Homo sapiens: one gene and its partners. The protein of the gene in region 7 interacts with the protein of the main gene of each other region in a pairwise test. Each region holds a gene or a part of one and is shown on either strand. Other genes may lie near its edges.

Region 1 (3,500 bases), on a different chromosome or scaffold from region 7:
AAACTCATCTTTTTACCACCAAATATCAGAAGTGATATCCTGTCCCTTCTGCTGTATTCTATTCATTAGAAGCTAGTCATTAGGTCCCACCTACACCCAGAGAGTGAACCACCAGGAAGTGAGATTATTGGGAACCATCTTAGAGGCTGCCTACCACATGCAAAATACGTCCCCCCTACTCCTCAGATCCTCAAAAGTTTCACTTTTGCATTACAACATCAGCTCAAAGTTCAGAATCTCATAATTGGAATCAAGTCAGGGTGATATCATAACTGGAATCACCCCAGGCTTCCTCAGGAGGTAGTTCTTTAAGTACAGTTCCTGGAACACAGTTGCTTTCCATCTGTAGACCCATGAAACTAGAGAAAAGTTATCTGCCTTCTACTCACAGCATAAAATTATGGATAAGGCATAACCATAACCATCACCATAACATTCTGTCCACAAAGCTGGGAAATGGGAGACATAAAGGAGTCACTAAGTCTAGCCCATGCTCAAGGGGAGGAAATTATGCAAGGTCTGAAACTAGGAGGTGGGGCCACCTTAGAGGCTGCCTACCACACTGCCCTTCTATTTGATTGTAATAATAAAAGGAGTAAAACTTTTGATAAATATTTTATGAGACTTCAGGTGGGGCTGATACCTAACATATATGGATGGCATTGCTGCTTGTATTGCTAGTTTTTTCCTTTGGCTCAGAGTAAAAATTCTTTTTGATTACAAGAATATCAGAGGAAATTGTTTAACAATTCTATTTCTCTTTATCATGGCTATAGATCTGATCATTGACTATTAGGTTGGTTTGTTTCCCAAAAATTTCCAAAATATTTTCCTAAAGTTTAATACAACATTTGTTATAGCTCCATGCTTATTCATGTGGCTGCCTTCTATATTTCTTCTTCAATTTATCAATACATCTTATATTTGCATAAAATTCAAACTACATCCCTTGGTGAAACATAATGTCTCTACTTTGAACATGGGAGATTTTCTACTTTCTTTTTCATACTATTGACTAGAGAAATAACTTCCCCTTCCCTTTATGCTGCTTTCTGAAGTCCTGCTAGAATACTCCTTATTGTCCTTCCTTTTTCTATCAGTCTATGGTTCTCAACCAACAACAGTTTTGCTCTTCGGGGGACATTTGGCAATGTCTGGAAACATTTTTGGTTGTCACAACAGGAGGGTGCTACTGGCATCTAGTGTGCAGAGGCCAGGGATGCTGCTCAGTAAGCTGTAATGCACAGGGCAGCCTCCGTACAACAAAGAATTATGGGGCTCAGAATGTCAATAATGCCAAAGTTGAGAAACCCCAGTGTAAAACAAACCAGTCCTTCTTCCCACTTTAAAAATGAAGACATTACAATGTTGCTTTAGCCTTGGTTACTATATAAATCTACTTTTTCCCCCCAAAAGCAAACATTTCCCCAAAATAACAAAAATGTGGAGTTGTGATATAAACTACAAATTGCAGGCAAACCAGGTTCTACTCAATTACCTAACCACTGAAGAATATAGCTTGAGATAAAGGGCATGGAGAAAAGTGAAATTTTACTAAATGTGCAGTTTGAATACTTCTTTTGATTGAGCAATATATACTGAATGTTTTGTGACACTTTGAGATCTAGTTTTATACTTTAAGCATATGTAATTACTGCTAACTGGAAAATATCTAAAATATGTATATCCAAACTAGAGCATGGATTAGGAGTCTTTTTTATTTGTTTGCTCTCAAAATGATGCCAACATAACAAAAATTTAGAACAATGTACAGCAGCCAGTATAGAATCCCTAAGATAACTATAATATTTTTAAATAAATAATGCTTCATATTTTTATTGTTTCATGGCATTTCCATTCACGAATCACCTTTTTTCCTAAATAAGTGTATCTATAATTTTATGAGTCATTTGTCCAAATATGTAGAACAGGGCTTTGGGAGAAAACAAATACACTCACAATTTTTCTCAATTGCCAACAGACTAGTTTATTTGTTTCTCTTGTAATACGAACATGCTATTCTCTTAGTTTTTATCTTCAATAACATATGAAAGATCCAAAATCAAATTGGCTGTCTCTACAGCCACCTGTAGGCCACTAAGCTTTGCAGTCAAACAGTCCAAGGTCAGGTTGCTGGCTGAGCCCACAGCTTCATGTGGAAGGCAGCTTTGTGGCACAAATGGACGACGTGTGCTTCTTAAGAAAGACCAGTTGAGTTCTTCCTGGCTATTGTATAATCCACAGCCACACTGTGAAAGCAAATCTGGCCAGTTAGCAACACAGGGAGAATCTGCCTGAACTGACCAAAGGTGTCCATACTTCATGTCAGTGAGAATTTCACCTCCATCATGTTCTAAAGAGCCAACAACAGATTCTAGGGCACTGCAAAATGCTTCAGCAATTAATTGAAGTTCTGTTTGAGTACATTCATCATCTTTGAGAATGCTTTCTGGGTCGTTGTGAGTCTAAAGAGTAATAAAAACATTGAAAACACATACAAAGCAATTAATATAAAATGTTTCAGAAAAATAAGATACTGAAATCAAAATCTTATTCCTAAAGTAATTACTTACTTTCATTTAATTTGGGGTCTGGCACAATGCTAACGGGCTTGTATGGGTCAGCCGGCCGGGTTGCAAACCCTTAACTAGGTTGGTTATAGTAAAAATGTATTAAAAATGTATATACTACCAGTCATGTTACCAGAATGAGTGAATCAGAATAACCCCACCATCAGCTTATTCTGAATGAGGCTTGGTAGTGCCTCCTTAATACATGAAGGACTAGGCATAATACATGTATTACAGGTTTTTCTGCACACAGGAGGAAGTTCCTGAAGACTGATGTCCCAAATGGAGTACTTATTTATCTCTGCAAAATGTTTGAGATTTGCTTAAAATGGGAATGCACATATTTTTATTTGGAAATCATGATGTAAATTTTCATATCAATGTTTTAAAAATGAATATTCTTCTCTTTAAATTAATGAAAAGGTAATAAGACCTTAAACAGTCTTCTGGTTCCACTATTTAAAAATGTTTATCCTAGAAATTCCATGATAAAAAGAAAAATTAATATATAGCCATGCACCACATACCAACACTTCAGTCAATGATAGACTGCATATACAACAGTGGTCCCATAAGATTATAAGGCCATATTTTTACTAACCTTTTCTGTGTGTTGATATGTTTAGATACATAAATACCATTGTGTTACAATTACCTACAGTATTCAGTACAGTAATATGCTGTAAGGGTTTGTAGCCTAGGAGCAATAGGCTATACCACATAGCTTAGGAGTGTGGTAGGCTCTACCATGTAGGTTTGTGCAAGTACACTCTATATTGTTTGCACAACAATATTGTCTAATGATGCATTTCTCAGAATATATCTTTGTTAAGCAACATGTCTGTATTAGCAAACTAATAACTGAATGATGGGTTAAAAAATCCATATCTTAACTGCTTAAAAACAGTGACTACTTTCCTACTCAAGACA
Region 2 (3,500 bases), on a different chromosome or scaffold from region 7:
AATGGCTCAAAGAACACTTTTCAAACCTCATTTAATGCTGGAAAGTTAATAAAACCATCATGAGATGTAAAAATATTAATTTTCTTTAACTTACCTGCCTCGTACTCCCAAGTACAGATGACAACAGCAGGAAGAGGTAATTAACACTCAAAAGCTTGAAAAGTAAATGTGGTCATTTGAAAAATGGACAGGAACACAGCATAATATGGGGAGTATTCCCGCATATACTCTTCCTTACTCTAATTTACTCTGGCCTGACTCAGAACATCAGTTCTGTAAAAACACTCTCGACTAGCTGGAAATGAGTTCTTTCTTACTGGGTGCCCACTATGTGGAAGGCATGATGGCGGACTCCGAATGAGGAAGGCATGGTTCTCACCCAATCAGAGCTCACAGCCCTGCAGTGTTTAGGCTAGCATGCAAAAACAATTAATTATGCAAGACAAAATAACATGAAATTCAAATAAAAGAGCAACTGCAGCAAAACCACCCCCAGGGTACGGAGGCAGGAGTACCCACAGCTGTGGGGAGAGGAGGGCCTAGGAGTTGAGGGGTTCAGCAGCTCAGTCTCTCTGACTTTCTCCTGCGTGTGTCTTGCCCCTCTCATCCTCCCCCAAGACAAACCACAGGATCCAGAACTTCTCTTCCCCAGTGCAGGTGACAGGAACCAGAACCCCTTTCCCCAAAGCCAGCCATAAAACCTAAAAATACTACTCTCTAGCCTTCCCCATGCCTTTCTGTATAACAGCTGGCCATAAAGACCTTGGACAATGAGACCCTCATTCCAGAGGGTCCTACCCCATTCCTGGAAGGAAGAAATGCTACAACAGAGAGGCCAAGAAGAACCTGAGGAGACAGGCCTTGCTGGGCTTCCCTACTCGGTCTATTTCCATCAGCTCACACCCTTTTTTCCAAATGAATTTCCACATGGCGGTCTGTGCTTCTTCACATCTAAGCAAAATCTGGAGAGTTCACCCTGGGTCTCTGGGTCTTCATTCTGAAAGCTCCTATGTCATTTAAAACTATGATTGAACACGTTTTGCTTTTCTATTGTTAATCTTTGTCATTGGGGTGTCAGCCATGACCCTTATGACAGGGTAGAGAGGGATCACCCCCTTTCTGCCCCTACAGAGTGAATCAGAAGGTTCTGAGCACCGTTCTGCTGATGGAATTCACACGTGGAACTTAGGTCTCCTGTCAGCCCAAAGCCCCCTCCCTTCAGCGCTGAGGAAAGAGGGGCCTGCTGGGTCTAGACCTGATGGGTCTGCCTCGGTGTATAAGAGCAGCAGAAACACACCTCGGGGATTGGCACCTGGTCTTACTCTGCCAAAAATGCCTGGGGATCTGCTCTGATCCTGCGACTGCTGCTGCATCACAAAGTGAGGCTGACAGAACAAAGGTCCCCAGCAAACATGTCCATGCCCTAATCCCTGGAACTTTTGACTATGGCACCTCGCACGGCAAAGGGACTTTGCACATGTGATTAATTAGGGAAGCTGAGATGAGATCATCCTGGGCAATCTACACGGGCCCTGAATCCAATGGCAAATATCCTTATGAGGGACAGAAGACAGACACCGAGGAGGGGGCCATGTGAAGACACAGCAGAGCCGGGAGGTGTGCGACCACTTGCCGCAGAACGCCTGGAGCCGCCAGAAGCTGAAAAAGGTAGGGAAGGACTTTCCATACAGCCTTTGGAGGGAGGGCAGCCCTGACAGCACCTTGATTTCTGGTTTTGGATTCTGTGAGCAGAGAATAAATTTTTGTTGTCTTAAGCTTCCCAGTTTGTGGTAATTTGCTATGGAAGCCCTAGCAAATGAACACAGTTACTAAGTAACTCTTCTGTGTCAAGTCAGGATAGCAAAGGCTGCCTTGGCTTAGGCAGAATAAAACAGCCAGGGCTCACAAGTGATGGAAGAACTGCCAGGGGGAAGCTATGAAATCTGCACCCTGTAGATCTGACTGTTAAGATGTTCTCAAGGTAGTAGGATCTCATTTCAGCCTGCCCAAAGAAACTTTCACCTGTTGGCCCAGTCTACAGTTACAAGACTAAAGGCAAAAGGAACTGTGTATATTCATAAAAACCGGGCTCTCGTTGTTTAAGTGGTTCCCATAGGGCGAGATGGCAATTCCAACACTGTGATACACACATATGTACTGAACAAGTAGGCAAATGTGCCACAGGCAATGGGAGCCACGTTTCTCACTGTTGGAATGGGAGGTGAGAGACAGCAGGGAAAACGCAAGAGTGATCCACGGGGTAAAGGATTAGGGCTGGAGACACCAGTGTGGACTCACAGAAACAAATGGTTCCATACAGAAGTATTTAGTGATATGTGTATATACACAGGTCAGTACACACAGACATTTCCTTGCTCCATCAGCTGAGAGGACCTAAAAGCAATGCCACCACAGTCGAAATGAGCACACCAGCATCCAGCTTGTGGTTTCTAACACCATCTCCAACAGAGGGGACCAGGGTTCCCCAGAGAAACGGCTGAACCTAAGACTGAAGCAGGAAATACACAAGATCAATCTAGGGCATCTAGCAATATTGGAAAGCAAGGAAGTGCTCAAAAATAAACAAACCCACCAGCCCACAAAGATGGGACAAGTTGAAAGGACACAAGAGACAATGGAACAGGCTCCCAATGGCCAAAGCAGGAACAACTGGAGAACAAAATAAGGAGTATTGGATTAGAACCTAAAGTATAATATAAGTATCTGTGAGTCCATAATGATATAAATGGCTGAGTAAATAAATGCAAGAAAACAGATAACCCTCCTGCACGGAAGAATTCCAAATAACATATGTAGACACTTTCCCCTTAAGGAGATGAAGCCTAAATAACTCCTCCCTTCAGAAGTGCAGGCTGCTCACTGTGACTTCCTTTCAGAGCACAGTATGAAGGGAGGGGGAAAGTGTGACTTTACAGTGGAGAAACCTGCCAATCACTATTTCAGTCAGGTAATCAAGATCAACAGCAAAAGAGAGAAGTCATGTAGACAGTATGTGTGCTTGATACGATGTAGCAAAAATGACACTTTATCTCCATGGTCTTCCTCCCAATCCCCACACCCCTGTGGCAGTGACTCTGTGGGGTGAGGGCTAAAGCAAATAATAAATTATGCTGGGTTGTTCTGAACTGAGATTTCTGGAGTGGAAGAAAGGGGTATGGATATAAGTTCTATGACATTAAGCAAAAACGTTGTAGTCCAGAAAAAGACTTGGATGTTACCAGTATGCGCTCATGAAATATTTTATCTTGAACAATGGTTTTCCCTGTCTCTGTCTGTTGAAATGGCTTAAAAACAACTGCCAATCCAACAGCAATGAGCACCTTATTAGGGCCAGATTATGGCCTTTAAGTACCATTTTTCACTTTAAAACAGCTAACCAGGGCTCCTTGGAGAAACAGCTGATTTCAGATTTGGGGCAATAAATCTGACCATAACTTCCTCTTACTGTTGGGAGGAACTTCAAAACTTATGATGACCTA
Region 3 (3,500 bases), on a different chromosome or scaffold from region 7:
AAATATATCCACCATTTAAAATCATTCCTATAATAATTTCAAAACAAAAAGTTAAAAGAAAATATGCCTACAGTGTTTCTACCTTAGATCAAATAACATCTATTCTCAAAAGGTCAATTTATTAATAATTACCATAGCCTTTCTCTACTGCTTAGGTCACTTCTGCTTTACCAAAACATACAGAACACTAAGGGGTTACAAGTCATAATGCGTCAATACTCTCTGTATTAACTGTCTTACCCAGATCACAGGTCCATCTCCAGGTCTCGCCTGTTGTTTCCAGATAGGTATCTACAAAATACAATACATTTCGTAAGCCATACCTTTAGTTAAACCACTACTAAATTATTTTCCTTTTTTTTTTTTTGAGACGGGATTTTTTTTTTTTTTTTTTGAGACAGAGTCCTGCTCTGTCACCCAGGCTGGAGTGCAGTGGCACAATCTGGGCTTACTGCAACCTCCACCTCCCGGGTTCAAGCAATTCTCCTGCCTCAGTTTCCCAAGTAGCTGGGATTACAGGCGTGTGCCACCACACCCAGCTAATTTTTTATTTTTATTTTTTGATGAAGGGTTTTGACACAAGGTTTCATCATGTTGGCCAGGCTGGTCTCGAACTCCTGATCTCAAGTGATCTGCCCACCTCAGCCTCCCAAAGTGCTGGGATTATAGGCGTGAGCCACCGCACCTGGCCAAGACAGGATCTTGTGATGCTGCCCTGGCTGGAGTGCAGTGGCTACTCACAGGTGCCATCATAGTATACTGCAGCCTTGAACTCTTGGCTTCAAGAGATCTGCCCGCCTCAGCCGCCTCACAAGTAGCTGGGACTACAGGCACGTGTCACTGTACCTGGCTACTACTATTTAAAGCAATACATACATGAGAAATAAAATATTTTTAAGCATGCAAAAATCAAGGTGAAGGAATGAATGAAGAGGAAGAAATCGAAATCCTTCTAAGTATCCCCAACAATGAAAGCTCTCAAGAGCACTAGTTATTGTATGATGGTCTTTGGAGAGTGAAAAGGGATCTGAACTAGGAATCAGAAGTCCTGGCAGGTATCAAATCTTGCTCTCCCATTTAATTATTCATAGGGCCACCCTAAGTCTTAATCTCTTCATCTATAAAATGAAGAAACTTGTCCAAATATTGCCTGCTTCACAGGGCTTCCATTGGGATCAAATGAGATGATGCCTGCAAATGTGTTTTACAAAATATGAAGGGCTTACTTTTTCTAATTCTTCATGTAAGTTGACTGTAGTTCTATTTAAACTCCAGAGACAAATCCTTACTTTAAAACTGAGAGTATGCGTCTCTAAGCAATTTTTAAAAAGTCTACATCTTCCATCTTGAATTTAAAAAAAGAAAAAAAAATGGCCAGGCACAGTGGCTCATGCTGGTAATCCCACCACATTGGGAGGCCAAGGCAGACAGGTCACCTGAGGTTAGGAGTTCGAGACCAGACTGGCCAACATGGAGAAAGCCTGTCTCTACTGAAAATACAAAAATTAGCCGGCCATCGTGGTGGGACACCTGTAGTCCCAGCTACTTGGGAGCCTGAGACACAAAAATCACTTGAACCTGGGAGGCAGAGGTTGCAGTGAGCCGAGATCACACCATTGTGCTATAGCCTGGGCAACAGAGTGAGACTCCGTACCAAAAAATAAAAGAAAAAACAAACAAACAAACAAAAAAAAACAGGTCTACATTGATACCTAAAGAAAAGGGACTTTATCTGCGTAGACCATCACATATTTCCTTACCTAAAGTAAGGGACTAAGCTGGGCATGGTGGCTCACACCTGTACTCCCAGCACTTTGGGGGGCTGAGGTGGGAGGATCACTTGAGGCCAGGAGTTCGAGACCAGCCTGGCCAACATAGCAAAACCCCATCTCTACTAAAAAATACAAAAATTAGCTGGGCGTGGTGGCACATGCCTGTAGTCTCAGCTACTTGGGAGGCTGAGGCAGGAGAATCGCTTGAACCCGGGAGGTGGAGGTTGCAGTGAGCCAAGAATCACGCCACTGCACTCCAGCCTGGGCGACAGAAGGGACTCAACTCTTCTAACTCAATCGTGCCTTGTAAGGAAAAAAATCTCATTCAAAAGCAAGCTTTTAAATGTTGCTGTATTTAATAAAGCACACTTCAGAAGAGTACTACACCCATGCTATATTTAGCTTTTTTTTTTTTAATTTAGCTTCTAATGTCATCCTAAATCTCTTGTTTTCTTTCTGCAATCACTCACCAACTTACCATCTTCCTCTCATTAGATATGAAGACAGCATAACATTCTTCTAAAGGATACTGGTCATGGTTTTTGATGTATTCACAGAGCTTCCAAATATTTTCTTCACTGAAATAAAATAATTGTTTAATCAAGATTAGAGAACATTCTATGTGTCTTTTAAATTTGAACAAAATACTGATGATGACATCAAAAAGTTGGAAAAGACCTTAAACCCCATGTCATCCAACAACTGGCTAATGTCTGAATCTCCTCTAAAACATCCCAACAAGCTGGTATTCAACCTATACTGTGTGTAAACCCCTCTCCACACAGAGCTAATTACCTCCCCTAGCAGTGCTTGTACATGGAGGCATTTTATAACTGATAAAATATGTCAATATTCTATGAGTTTTGGGCCCAGCAACTTGTAATACAGCTGAAATTCTAACTCAGCCACTTACAAGGTAAGAACCTTTGACAAAGGCCAGGCGTGGTGGCTCAGGCCAGTAATCCCAGCACTTTGGGAGGCCGAGGCGGGCGGATCACGAGGTCAGGAGTTCGAGACCAGCCTGGCAGAGAGACCAGCCTGACCAATATGGTGAAACCCCGTCTCTACTAAAAATACTAAAATTAGCCAGGCATGGTGGCGGGTGCCTGTAATCCCGGCTACTTGGGAGGCTGAGGCAGGAGAATTGCTCGAACCTGAGAGACAGAAGTTGCAGTGAGCCAAAGATCACACCACTGCACTCTAGCCTGGACAACAGAGCAAGACTCCAACTCAAAAAAAAAAAAAAAAAAAAAAGCTTTGACCATCTTGACTTCTCCAAGAATCTGCTTTTCTCATGTGTAAAATGGGCATAATCATATACTGTAAACACACAAAAATCTTAGTTAACACTGGTTCCCTGCTCTCTTTAGAAATGGGGCAGGATGGGTGTTTTGGGTTGAAAGCCTCCTGGCTGGAAAGAATCAGGAGCAATTATGTGATATGTCCGGGAACTCATTTGGGGGAATCCCTGTGAGTGGGATTCCCCATGCCCCTCTAGTAAGAAAGGGACATAATTTTATTTTTTTTATTTATTTATTTTTGGAGACAGAGTCTTACTTCACTGCCCAGGATGGAGTGCAGTGGTGTGATCTCGGCTCACTGCAACCTCCACTTCTCAGGTTCAAGTGATTGTCATGCCTCAGCCTCCTGAGTAGCTGGGATTACAGGCGTGCAGCACCACACCCAGCTAACTTTTGTATTTTTAGTAGAGATGGTGTTTCACCATGT
Region 4 (3,500 bases), on a different chromosome or scaffold from region 7:
ATGATATTTCATTGTGGTTTTGATTTGCATTTCTCTAATGATAGTGATGTTGAGCTTTTTTTTCATATGGTTATTGGCCATGTGTATGTCTTCTTTTGAGAAGTGTCTGTTCATGTCCTTTGCCCACTTTTTAATGGGGTTCTTTGCTTTTTTTCTTGTAAATTAAAGTTTCTTATAGATGGTGCATATTGGACCTTTGTCAGATGCATAGTTTGCAAATATTTCTTTCCCATTCTTTAGATAGTCTTTTTACTCTGTTGATGCTTTCTTTTGCTCTGCGGAAGCTCTTACGTTTAATTAGATACCATTTGTCAATTTTTGCTTTTGTTGTGATTGCTTTTGGTGTCTTTGTCATGAAATCTTTGCCCATTCCTATGTTTAGAATAGTGTTGCCTTGGTTGTCTTCCAGGGTGTTTATAGTTTTGGGTTTTACATTTAAGTCTTTTATCTATCTTGAGTTGATTTTTATATCTGGTGTAAGATATATGGCTAGCATATGGCTAGCAGGTTATCCCAGCACCTTTCCCCATTGCTTATTTTTGTCAACTTTGTTGAAGATCACATAATTATAGGTGTGTAGCCTTATTTCTGAGCTCCCTATTCTATTCCATTGGTCTATGTGTCTGTTTTTGTACCAGTACTGTACTGTTTTGGTTACTGTAGCCCTGTAGTATAGTTTGAAGGCAGGTAACATGATGCCTCCAGCTTTGTTCTTTTGCTTAGAATTGCCTTGACTATTCAGGCTCTTTTTGGGTACCATTGAATTTTAAAGTATTTTTTTCTAGTTCTGTGAAGAGTGTCACTGGCAATTTGATAGGAATAGCATTGAATCTGTACATTGCTTTGGGCAGTATGGTGACTGTAAAGATATTGATTTTTCGTATCCATGAGCATGTAATGTTTTTTCATTTGCTTGTGTTATCTCTGATTTCCTTAAGCAGTGTTTTGTAATTCTCATTGTAGAGATCTTTCATCTCCCTGGTTAGCTGTATTCCTAGGTATCTTATTCTTTTTGTGACAGTTGTAAATGGGATTGTGTTCCTGATTTTACTCTCAGCTTGGCTGTTGTTGGTGTATAGGAGTGCTAGTGATTTTTGTATGTTGATTTTGTGTCCTAAAATTTTGCCGAAGTTGTTTATTAACTTAAGGAGTTTTTGGGATGAGGCTCTGGAGTTTTCTAGATATAGAATCATGTTTTCTCCAAACAGGGATAGTTTGACTTTCTCTCTTCCTACTTGGATGTCCTTCATTTCTTTCTCTTGACTGATTGTTCTGGCCAAGACTTCCAATATTGTCTTGGATAGAAGTTGTGGAAGAGGGCATCCTTTTCTTGTGTCAGTTTTCAAGAGGAATGCTTCCAGCTTTTCCCTGTTCAATATAATGTTGGCTGTGGGTTTTTCATAGATGGCTCTGATTATTTTGAGGTGTGTTCCTTTAATACCTAGTTTATTTATTTATTTATTTTATTATTATACTTTAAGTTATGGGGTACATGCGCACAACGTGCAGGTTTGTTGCATATGTATACATGTGCCATGTTGGTGTGCTGTACCCATTAATTTGTCATTCAATTAGGTATATCTCCTAGTGGTATCCCTCCCCACACCCCCCACCCTATGACAGGCCCCAGTATGTGATGTTCCCCACCCTGTGTCCAAGTGTTCTCATTGTTCAATTCCCACCTATGAGTGAGAATATGCAGTGTTTGGTTTTCTGTCCTTGCGATAGTTTGCTCAGAATGATGGTTTCCAGCTTCATCCATGTCCCTACAAAGGACATGAGCTCATCATTTTTTATGGCTGCATAGTATTCCATGGTGTATATGTGCCACATTTTCTTAATCCAGTCTATCATTGTTGGACATTTGGGTTGGTTCCAAGTCTTTGCTATTGTGAATAGTGCCGCAATAAACATATGTGTGCATGTGACTTTATAGCAGCATGATTTATAATCCTTTGGGTATATGCCCAGTAATGGGATGGCTGGGTCATATGGTATTTCTTGTTCTGGATCCTTGAGGAATCACCACACTGTCTTCCACAATGGTTGAATTAGTTTACATTCCCACCAACAGTGTAAAAGCATTCCTATTTCTCCACATCCTCTCCAGCACCTGTTGTTTCCTGACTTTTTAATGATCTCCATGCTAACTGGCATGAGATGTGTGGTTTTGATTTGCATTTCTCTGATGGCCAGTGATGATGAGCATTTTTTCACGTATCTGTTGGCTGCATAAATGTCTTCTTTTGAGAAGTGTCTGTTCATATCCTTCGCCCACTTTTTGATGGGGTTGTTTTATTTTTTCTTGTAAATTTGTTTAAGTTCTTTGTAGATTCTGGATATTAGCCCTTTGTCAGATGGGTAGATTGTAAAAATTTTCTCCCATTCTGTAGGTTGCCTGTTCACTCAGATGGTAGTTTATTTTGCTGTGCAGAAGCTCTTTAGTTTAATTACATCCCATTGGTCAATTTTGGCTTTTGTTGCCATTGCTTTTGGTGTTTTAGTCATGAAGTCCTTGCCCATGCCTATGTCCTGAATGGTATTACCTAGGTTTTCTTCTAGGGTGTTTATGGTTTTAGGTCTAACATTTAAGTCTTTAATCCATCTTGAATTAATTTTTGTATAAGGTGTAAGGAAGGGATCCAGTTTCAGCTTTCTACATATGGCTAGCCAGTTTTCCCAGCACCATTTATTAAATAGGGAATCCTTTCCCCATTGCTTGTTTTTCTCAGGTTTGTCAAAGATCAGATGGTTGTAGATGTGTGGTATTATTTCCGAGGGCTCTGTTCTGTTCCATTGGTCTATATCTCTGTTTTGGTACCAGTACCATGTTGTTTTGGTTACTGTAGCCTTGTACTATAGTTTGAAGTCAGGTAGCGTGATGCCTCCAGCTTTGTTCTTTTGGCTTAGGATTGTCTTGGCAATGCAGACTCTTTTTTGGTTCCATATGAACTTTAAAGTAATTTTTTCCAATTCTGTGAAGAAAGTCATTGGTAGCTTGATGGGGATGGCATTGAGTCTATAAATTACCTTGTGCAGTATGGCCATTTTCACAATATTGATTCTTCCTACCCATGAGTATGGAATGTTCTTCCATTTGTTTGTGTCCTCTTTTATTTCATTGAGCAGTGGTTTGTAGTTCTCCTTGAAGAGGTCCTTCATGTCCCTTGTAAGTTGGATTCCTAGGCATTTTATTCTCTTTGAAGCAATTGTGAATGGGAGTTCACTCATGATTTGGCTCTCTGTTTGTCTGTTATTGGTGTATAAGAATGCTTGTGATTTTCGCACATTGATTTTGTATCCTGAGACTTTGCTGAAGTTGCTTATCAGCTTAAGGAGATTTTGGGCTGAGAGGATAGGGTTTTCTAAATATACAATCATGTCATCTGCAAACAGGAACAATTTGACTTCCTCTTTTCCTAATTGAATACCCTTTATTTCTTTCTCTTGCCTGATTGCCCTGGCCAGAACTTCCAACACTCTGTTGAATAGGAGTGGTG
Region 5 (3,500 bases), on a different chromosome or scaffold from region 7:
CAAAGTTCATGCCATTCTCCTGCCTCAGTCACCTGAGTAGCTGGGACTACAGGCACCTGCCACCACACCCGATTTTTTAGTAGAGACGGGGTTTCACCGTGTTAGCCAGGATGGTCTCGATCTCCTGACCTCGTGATCCGCCCGCCTCGGCCTCCCAAAGTGCTGGGATTACAGGCATGAGCCACCACGACCAGCCTGCTTTTACTATCTTAATGTCTATTTTCATTTGGCAGCTAGCGTGTTTCTATGAAAATGGAAGTTAAATCATGTCAGCCTTCTGTTCGAAACCTTCCAGTGGTTTTGAAGCTTGTATTTCATTGAAGGCTGCCACCCTAAATGACTGACCGCCTTCTTCTGATCTCATCACCTACAGCCCCCGTTTCCTTACACAGCTCCAGCCACATACACGGCAGCCTCCAGGCCTTTCCTCTGCCTAGAATATTCCTCCCCAAGAAAACTGCATGGCCCAATCCCCCACCTCCTTCAGTGCCACCTTCTGAATAACAAGGTTCTGATCACTTTATTTACAAGCTCACTCCATTGCTTCCTTTCTCACTTAAAAAAAATTTTTTTAAACACTTCCCAGGTAACATACTATATATTAAACTTATTTTGTTTATATCCACTAGAATGCAAGTTCCACGAAAGCAGAGCTGGTTTTTTTTGTTTTCCATTGGTGAGCCCCTAGCACCTTGCATAGTCCCTGGCAAACAGTGGGATCTCAGTATTTGCTGAACACATGGTACTTGGAACTGAAAAAGAAGGGGGATCGGTTGAAAAATCCTTACCTAGCCAGGCAATTCTCCTCCACTATCTTCCCTAAGTAGGCATTTATTTCCTTTAAAAATTGAGGGAGAGAAAAGACCCAGAATCGGGGATACCTTGCACAGAATAGGATTAAGTATGAAGATACAGGCTGAAATTAGAAGTGAAATATGCCTAACAGGTGGTGAACCCTCAAATCTGAATAGCTATTCTCAAATTGCTCTTTAAAGGGTTTTAGAATTTATGTGGCAACCAGAAGTACAAGAGATGCTCATTCTCCTATGTCATTGTTATAAACGGTGTCGTTAATCTTTTTGATCATTGCAAATAGCATTGCAAATGCCATTTTACTCACCATATAATTTGTATTTCTCTTACCACGAACAAAGTTCAAATTCTTTCAATGTATTTAAAATATATTTACTTTCTTTTCTGCAAACTCTTATTTGATCGTTTTTTAAAATTAAATTTCTAGTCTTTTCCTTACTGACTTTTTTTATTTTTATTTTTTTTGAGATGGAGTCTTGCTCTGTGGCCTAGGCTGGAGTCCAGTAGTGTGATCTCGGCTCACTGCAACCTCTGCCTCCCAGTTCAAGCGATTCTCCTGCCTCAGCCTCCCGAGTAGCTGGGATTACAGGCTCGTGCAACCACACCCAGCTAATTTTTGTATTTTTAGTAGAGATGGGGTTTCACCATGTTGGCCAGGCTGGTCTCAAACTCCTGACCTCAAGTGATCCGCCCTCCTCAGCTTCCCAAAGTGCTGGGATTACAGGCGTGAGCCACCACACCCAGCTTCTTACTGACTTTAAAGAGCTTTTTATACATTAAGATATTAGCACTTTTCCTTCCTATAGATTTCACATTTTTCCTGCTTTGTGATTTGTCTTTTGACTTTGTTTATGATACACTATTTTCTAACAACATTACTGGTAATTTCCCCCCAAGAATCAAGATAAGCACTCACTGACCTGAATCATCGCCATTCTTTCTTGCTCATCAGTCAATATGCTTTTAGCTGCTTCAAGTTTCTCCCTCGATGTGTTCAATATTTCCTGGAATAACTTCTATAGAGAAAGCACAGAATTCCAGGTGAGATCATTGATTTAGAACAGTTGGATTCCTGACCTTAAACAGCCAACAACTCTGAGTATATATTTTCTTAGCCTTTAGGTTGAAGGTTCAACGAACTTATCTAATATTCTGTAATAAACATCAACTAAGGTAATGGTTTTGGAGGACCAGAATGTCTGTCCATTTCATCCATATAGGAGTTGGCCAGAGTGTTTTGGGATTTGCGTGAGTGACTCTTACCCTGTAATTCTCAGCAGCCTCTTGTATCCCACACACCATGTGATGTTTGTGCTCCTGGGACTGGAAGCATTTGCTGCAGAGTGTGATTTGGTCAACATCACAGAACAGCCGTGTTGGTTCCAGGTGTGTTTCACAATAGGCATCTTCTGTGATGTTGTGCTGTAACTGAGGGCTGAGCCTTTTGGACATCCTGGTAGGGGTCCCTAGTTGAAGACTGGACTGTATGCTTCTACTGAGGTATCTCCCTGCACTGTGAATGAGAAAAAATGGTGGCTTCCTTTGTTTTCTGGAGCAGGCACACACACTTGGCAACTTCAGAGTCCACGAAGATCCAAGGAAATAAGTCCACGCAGACAGAGCGGGTCGGCGCTCTGGACTCCTCAAATCCAACAAATTTCTGGCAGCTGCCTGCTTGGGGAAAAGACAGAGTTAGGCCAGTGTTCTAAGACCAGCGGGTTTCCCTCAGGTCTTCTGACAATCTTGAGCAATAGGCTGAAAATTAATTACAAGGAACAGCACTCACTTACGAGTCATTCAGGGGAAAACAGTGCTCTAAAGGCATCGCGCTAATTACTGAAGGAACTTCAGGACTAGAGTGAGGTAACAGAGTGCGAAAGAGGTTCGTTGATAGAATTACAGAAAAAAACCACAAGTATCTGAAAAAGTTATTAAAATACTTTCCCTTTGAGAGACAGGGTCTTGCTCTGTTGCCCAGTCTAGAGTACAGTGGCGTGACCACGGCTCACTGCAGCCTCTGGAACTCCCAGGCTCCAGCGATCCTCCCACCTCAGCTTCCGGAGTAGCTGGGACTACAGCTGGGACAAAACACATGCAACAGAAGGAATGGGGAAGCAAATAAGGGAAAACAGCTCCTCTTTTTTTTTTTTTGAGACGGAGTCTCGCTCTGTCACCCAGGCTGGAGTGCGGTGGCGCGATCTCGGCTCCCTGCAAGCTCCGCCTCCCGGGTTCCCGCCATTCTCCTGCCTCAGCCTCCCGAGTAGCTGGGACTTCAGGCGCCCGCCACCTCGCCCGGCTAATTTTTTGTATTTTTGTAGTAGAGACGGGGTTTCACCGTGTTAGCCAGGATGGTCTCGATCTCCTGACCTCGTGATCCACCCGCCTCGGCCTCCCAAAGTGCTGGGATTCCAGGCGTGAGCCACCGCGCCCGGCCGAAAACGGCTCTTCTAAGAAGCCATCAATTAAAGAGATTTGCAAAACAGTGAAGCCAAAGCCACTCTTCTCAATAATTGTTTCCGAAATAAAATTTCAGGAGTGACGTGACGCGCTGCCCGCGGTCTGGCCGTGAGCGCCCTCGCTCCTTCCTCTTTGACTCCATCTTCGCGGGGGCGGCAGCCGGAACCGCGGTTCAGTCACCAACATGCAGTTCTTGGTCCGCGCCCCGGAGCTACACGCCCTCCAGGTGA
Region 6 (3,500 bases), on a different chromosome or scaffold from region 7:
TTGATTGTTTCCAAAAATTGAACTGAATTCTACCCTTAAGAGATGAGGATTTGGCGCTGGCACGGTGGCTCACATGCCTGTTATCACAGTACTTTGAGGCCAAGGCAGGAAGATTCCTTGAGACCAGGAGTTCAAGTTCAGACTGGGCAACATAGCAAGACTCCCATCTCTACAAAACATTAAAAACTTATCCAGGCATGGTAATGCACGCCTAGAGTTTCAGCTACTCAGGAGGCTGAAATGAGAAGATCACTAGAACCCAAGAGTTTAAAGCTGCAGTGAGCTATGATCATGCCACTAATGCTCCAACCTGGGTGACAGGATCAGACCCTCTCTCTAAAAAAGCAAAGAAAAAAGATGAGATAGGCCAGGCATGGTGGCTCATGCCTGTAATCCCAGCACTTTAGGATGCTGAGGCTGGCTGATCACTTAAGCTCAGGAGTTTGAGACCAGCCTGGGCAACATGGCAAAACCCGGTCTCTACAAAAAATACAAAAATTAGCCGGGCATGATGGTGCACATCTGTAGTCCCAGCTACTCCAGAGACTGAGGCAGGAGGATAGCTTGAGCCTGGGAGAGGGAGGTTGCAATGAGCCGAGATCACACTACTGCACTTCAGTCTGGGCAACAGACCAAGACTCTGTCTCAAAAAAAAAAAACAACAGATGAGATAAGAGATAAAGTTTTGTCACCAACGAGGCTATACACAGTATAGTTACAGAAGCTTCAAGATGCAGGAGACCTTAGAAATAACCTAGGCCAGGGCAGTCCAATACAGCAGTCACCAACCACATAAGGCCATTTAAATTGTTAAAATATAATAAAATTAATAATTCTGTTCATCAGTCTCACCAGCCATATTTCTAATGCTCAGTAGCCACATGTGGCGAATGGCCACCGTATCGAATAGCACAGATACAGAATATTTTCATCATCACAGAAAGTCCTAGAGGACAGTGCATTCGTCTAGAGAAATGGGTCTCAGTTGAGAAATGGGTCTACATTGAGAGCATATGTGTGAAACCAAATCTTTCAAAATCACATGACTTTCTCCCACATGGCTGTCTTGGAGAGTTATGTGGATTCTAGCTCAGGTGCTGATTGCAGGAGATCCAGAGGTGAGGCCCCAGGACTGCAAGAAGGATACACAGGCATGAGTTTCAGCTCATCCCTATGATTAAGTCAGGAAAAGCCTCCAGAATGGATGGCCGGCAACCAACATGTGTTGTTGAGATGGTACACCCCAGACTGTACTGATGTTGTACTCTTGTTCTGTTACTTATCTGTCCTGCCCAGGTTGCAAGAATAGGACACCACCCTATTCTAAAACCTCTCTAGCTTCCAGGGAGGTTTTATCTTGTAATTTATAAAGTTTTCCTACTGAACATCAAACAATGGTGGTGGGAGGCGAGGTGTGTGTGACCTTTCCCATTTAGTCAACTTGGGAAGCAGTCACCCTTATCAAGGAAAGAAGACCTGGAAGGTGGACCTCAGAGAGAAGGGAGAAAACCATCCTCCTTCACTGTGTGAGTTTGGCCTGGAGCACCTCCAGGAGAAGTGGGTAAAGAAGACTTGGAGGAGACCTGGGAGGGACCTCAAGGCCATAGCTTGCCTGGGAGCTCTGAGAATAGCGACATCTAGAAGTACTTGTAAGTTATTCTTCTGGCCTAGAATTCTTTGGGGGGTTTTTCCCCACCTCTTTGTCCTCAACTCTTCAGAAAGATCTTGTTGAAATTACAGCTTGGTCTCAGCAGTGTTTGGGGACGGTTCCATAAGCCCGGAGTGGTGGTAGCAGCAGTTACTGGTGGAGGACACAGGGCCTGCAGCAGGTGCTGATCTCTCCAGGGGCAATGGCAACACACAAGCAACTGGGGGCCCAGTGAGGAGACCAGGACAGAACCTGAAGGACCTGCTGTAGCACACCTGAGAAGCCACATCTTAGGGACTGAAAGCCACCAAGCGACATTGACTTCCATGACACCACAATCTCCTCGTCCTCCTGGCTTTGTGGTTGCTTCTTCTCAGCGTCTCTCACTGGTTCTTCTTCCCTCTCCTCCGGAAGTGCACGCATTTTCCAGGCACTCTCTTTACCTCTTCTCTCTCTACACTCTCTTCCTTGGTAATGTTGATCCTTTCCAGGGCTTCAGCCACCAACTCCACCTATGCCCCTAGCCCATGCCCCCTCCTGAGTTCCAGCCCTCAGAGACCACCTGACCATGGAATCTCTTCATTTGAAAGACCTGCAAGCACTTCAAGCCCAATGTGTCCAGACTCATCATCACCTTCCTCTTCTTCACCCTCCATGTCCAATTACTGCCAAATTCAGTCAAGTCTACCCATGCAATTTAACCTCCTATTTCCATTATGAGTTCCCTATTTCAAAACTGCACCGGCTTTGACTGGAAAACTGAAGTCCCCTCTGAAGTGGTCAGTCAAGCCCCCTTCCAACCTGTCCTATTTGATGCTAACAGGATTATGGTCCTAAATTATATATTATAGGTATGAGCATGTCTGCCCCTTCTCTAAACACCGTAATAAATGGATTTCTTCAAATCCCATTTTGTGTCCTCCTGCACCCATTTTCAGTGCACAAAAAATTCTCTAAACTCCTTTGAACTCTCCAGCCCTATACTTTGCTACAGCCCATTCAGTCAATCCCCCAAGTCACACTTCCTCCATGTTACTTGACATCCTCAGTCAATTTCACCTTCTCCTTCCCTACACACAAGGTGGGTGGCTGCAGCTCTACAGTGCATTTCCTGCAGGCTGCCTGGTACTGCAGGCGCTTGCAGGAGGGTCCAGCTCCTCATTAGACCACCAGGGCAGTGTGATACCACACAGAACACCCACCCAAAGGCTAACAAGATCATGGCTGTCACATCTCCCACAGGGCCATGAAATATAGACCTTGCTGAGCGTTTCAAGTGGCTTTGAGGGAGGTTTATCATTTAATTTATAAAGTTTGCCTACTGTACATCAAACAGAATGAGAAGATCACCAATGCTAACTCAGTGACCTGGAATTTAGAGTCTGCCAGAGCCTGACACCAAAGTCATGGACTCTACCCTTGGATTGCCCCTGCCAGGAGGAGGGCAGGAGATGAATGCATCAGCAGGTGAATCAGGGGAGAAGAGCCATAATGCAAAAAATTGAAAAAAAATCTATAAAAAGTACAAAAAATACAACTTTGGACACGGGTCTCAGCTGTGGAAAGCTGAAAGCCAGCAGTAGTTGACTAGAGATACTGCAGCATGTGGTTGATTTGACAAAATAGCTAATTTGACTGAGGGCACAGTTTAAGTTGCAGGAGGTTTAAAAAAAGAGGCGGACATCATCACCCATGCTACCTTCCCCCAGAACACACTGACACTGTCACTACCACCAGAGGCAAAAGCACAGGGAGAAAAGCAGAGGGACTGTTTGAACGAATAAAGGGAAGGTTGAACCCACTATCATTTTGCACCCACTAAGAATTGAGACAGCAGAATTAAAACTGCCAA
Region 7 (2,521 bases):
GGAGCCACCGCCCCCGACCCTCTCTCACTTCTCAAATCTCTTTCCTTTTTCCACCTTCTAGGTGTCAAAGACAGTGGATGGTCTCTGAGGTTCAAAACCAAGCTGACCGGGTAAGTATTTACAGCAAAGCATCCAATGGGCTGCTGCGGGGATGACTTGTAAGACAACACGCTTCCTCGCTACAGGAAGCTGCTGTCCCTAATGCCAAAGAAACCGCCGCTGACGCCATCCCCCAAGGAGAACACCTGCTCCTGGTCCAGGCCCCACTCCCCCTCGTCCTGGTCCTCGGGTTCCGCCTCTGCCCCACTCCGGGCGTTCTCATACAGAAACACCTGCTCGTCCACGTGCGCGGGAGCCAGCCGGTTCCTCTTGGCGCTGACCACGTTGGCGGCGGATCCGAAGAGACGCTCAGGGGCGACGCGCGTGGCCGTCACGCACCAGTACTTCTGCAGCACCTTGGGCAGCAGGGGGAAGAGGGCCAGGCGGTCTGACCACCACTTGAGGGGGTCTTCGTTGAGGCCAAGCACCTTCTGGGACTTGAAGTTGCTCAGCTCCTCCACCACCTGGGCATGCCACTCTTCCTGGTCCTCCACGCCGCCTGTCTGGCAGAAGATCTCGGCCAGCATGTTGTTGATGACGCTGGCGGGCGGCGGCGTGGATGTCCGCATGAGCTTCTTGACGGGAGGCTCCTCGGGCACCGGGAAGATCTTGTCCTCAGCCGGCCGGTAGCCGCCGTCTTTGACCTTGTCCAGCAGGCCCTTGGCCTCTTCCACCACGCGATTCTCCACCTGCTGCCGCTCGAAGGCGGAGAGGAAGGGCAGCCTCTTGTAGCGGGGGTCCAGGAAGGTGGCCACGTTGAGAAACATGTCGATCTCGGGCGTCTCCTGGTAGGTCTTGGAAAGCTCCTTGGCGATGACCTCCTTGGCCATGCTGAGCTCCTTGGAGTCGGTCTCCTTGATGTTGAGCGTGGTGTTCAGGAGCATGTGCAGCAGCGGCTTCACCATGCTGATGGTGGGGTACCTGGAGGCCGACAGCATCTCGGCCACCTGCTTGAAGGGCTGCAGGAGCTCCACCAGCCCCTCGATGGTGGCCCACTCGCTGGCCTCCAGCATGAGGTGGTGGTTGTTGCTGTCCTCCACCAAGACCCCGGCGATGACGAACTGCTGCTCCTTGAGGCGCTGCAGCATGGCCAGCGTGCTCCCCCACCAGGAGACGCGGTTGCTCACCAGCATGCAGTGGGCCACGTTCTGCTGCTTCTGCTTCTCATAGAGCATGTACATGGCCACGGCAGACTGCTGGAAGTACTCCACCAGTTTGCGGCAGCGCGACAGCAGCGCCCCCAGCTTCGGGAGCTGGAAGGCCTGCTGGATGCCGGCATTGAAGGTGTGGCCCAGGCAGGGCATGTGCACTGCGACGTCCAGCAGGGAGCACGCCTTCACGATGTCCTTGCCATAGTTGGTGGTGGCCCCGAAGACCTTGGCGCTGATGCCCCACTCGATGAAGACCTCATAGAGCACTCGCGTGATGGTCTCCGCCGTGTTCTCTTCGGGCACCTCGAAGGTCTTCAGGCAGCGGGAGCCCATGGACAGGCAGTTGGGGGCGCCCAGGCCCAGGAAGTGGGCGGCCAGCGTGACGTAGGCGCGGTTCTGATTCTCACTCCTCCACATGTCGGTGGAGATGCCACACCAGGTGGCCTCGGCCAGCTCCTTCAGGATCACCTCCCGGACGGCCCCGTACTTCTCAGGGATGGCCTTGGTAGAGATGTACTTCCGGCTGGGCAGCTCATACCGGGGGTCGGCCGTCTTCAGCAGCACCTTGAAGGTGGGCTCGTCCACGATGGAGGCTGGGTACAGCCCCTCGCAGATGAGGCCCAGCACGGCGGCCGTCAGCTCCTGCTGCTTCTTGCTGTCGTAGCCGTGGCCGGCCTTGACGGCCAGCGCGTCCTGCCCGGGCTGCTGGGACGACTCGGGCTTCAGCTTGGAGAAGGCGGTGGCGAAGGCTTCACGCATCTGCTCCGTGTTGCTCTTGACGAACTCGCAGAATTCCTCGGGGTGGTTCTTCTCCAGGTGGTAGGACAGGTTGGAGGTGTTTCCGGAGTAGGCGATCTGGGCCATGCAGATGCGGCAGTAGATTTTCTTCCACTGCAGGATGCATCCCTCGGCGTTGGTGTCGAAGCCGAAATACTTCCACACCTTGCTCTTGGCGCGGGGGTGGGCCACCAGCTTCAGGTCTGTCTGGGAGCTCTCCAGGCTTTTATTCTCCATTGCTTCTCCACCGGAGCCTGCCTGCTGGACGGCTGCTCATGCGTGGGGACCTGCTGAGAAGGGCCAAGACAAACACAGCATGAGAAGGGACCCAGGCACGCACGGGAGCCCTGCCGGGGAGACAGACAGGGTGCCGGGGCAGCTCCGCTTTCAACCAAAGGGCACTGGGGCCGGACGGCTGGACCTTCCTTGCGGGTCACTTTTGCAGAGTGGAGGAGGGAACCTAGCGCAGGAATACGCTCTTTCTTCCACGTTAA

The links.
Region 1: the proteins of ZBED1 (region 7) and MKKS interact in binary tests that used the Homo sapiens proteins (3 or more experiments, as listed by UniProt).
Region 2: the proteins of ZBED1 (region 7) and GGACT interact in binary tests that used the Homo sapiens proteins (3 or more experiments, as listed by UniProt).
Region 3: the proteins of ZBED1 (region 7) and NTAQ1 interact in binary tests that used the Homo sapiens proteins (3 or more experiments, as listed by UniProt).
Region 4: the proteins of ZBED1 (region 7) and EFHC1 interact in binary tests that used the Homo sapiens proteins (3 or more experiments, as listed by UniProt).
Region 5: the proteins of ZBED1 (region 7) and TRIML2 interact in binary tests that used the Homo sapiens proteins (3 or more experiments, as listed by UniProt).
Region 6: the proteins of ZBED1 (region 7) and FAM124B interact in binary tests that used the Homo sapiens proteins (3 or more experiments, as listed by UniProt).

Annotation. Positions count from the first base shown.
Region 1 is NC_000020.11:10,403,223-10,406,722, forward strand, and holds part of MKKS (molecular chaperone MKKS), read right to left. Parts: intron 2,466-3,500; coding exon 2,025-2,465; 3' UTR 1-2,024. UniProt on the Homo sapiens protein: Probable molecular chaperone that assists the folding of proteins upon ATP hydrolysis. Plays a role in the assembly of BBSome, a complex involved in ciliogenesis regulating transports vesicles to the cilia.
Region 2 is NC_000013.11:100,578,790-100,582,289, forward strand, and holds part of GGACT (gamma-glutamylaminecyclotransferase), read right to left. Parts: intron 1-3,500. UniProt on the Homo sapiens protein: Contributes to degradation of proteins cross-linked by transglutaminases by degrading the cross-link between a lysine and a glutamic acid residue. Catalyzes the formation of 5-oxo-L-proline from L-gamma-glutamyl-L-epsilon-lysine.
Region 3 is NC_000008.11:123,426,774-123,430,273, reverse strand, and holds part of NTAQ1 (protein N-terminal glutamine amidohydrolase), read right to left. Parts: intron 2,351-3,500; coding exon 2,251-2,350; intron 292-2,250; coding exon 241-291; intron 1-240. UniProt on the Homo sapiens protein: Mediates the side-chain deamidation of N-terminal glutamine residues to glutamate, an important step in N-end rule pathway of protein degradation.
Region 4 is NC_000006.12:52,440,842-52,444,341, forward strand, and holds part of EFHC1 (EF-hand domain-containing protein 1), read left to right. Parts: intron 1-3,500. UniProt on the Homo sapiens protein: Microtubule inner protein (MIP) part of the dynein-decorated doublet microtubules (DMTs) in cilia axoneme, which is required for motile cilia beating.
Region 5 is NC_000004.12:188,103,104-188,106,603, forward strand, and holds part of TRIML2 (probable E3 ubiquitin-protein ligase TRIML2), read right to left. Parts: intron 2,908-3,500; exon of another isoform or gene 2,488-2,907; 5' UTR 2,266-2,487; coding exon 2,077-2,265; intron 1,830-2,076; coding exon 1,734-1,829; intron 1-1,733.
Region 6 is NC_000002.12:224,392,108-224,395,607, forward strand, and holds part of FAM124B (protein FAM124B), read right to left. Parts: intron 1-3,500.
Region 7 is NC_000023.11:2,488,456-2,490,976, forward strand, and holds part of ZBED1 (E3 SUMO-protein ligase ZBED1), read right to left. Parts: intron 2,318-2,521; 5' UTR 2,265-2,317; coding exon 180-2,264; 3' UTR 1-179.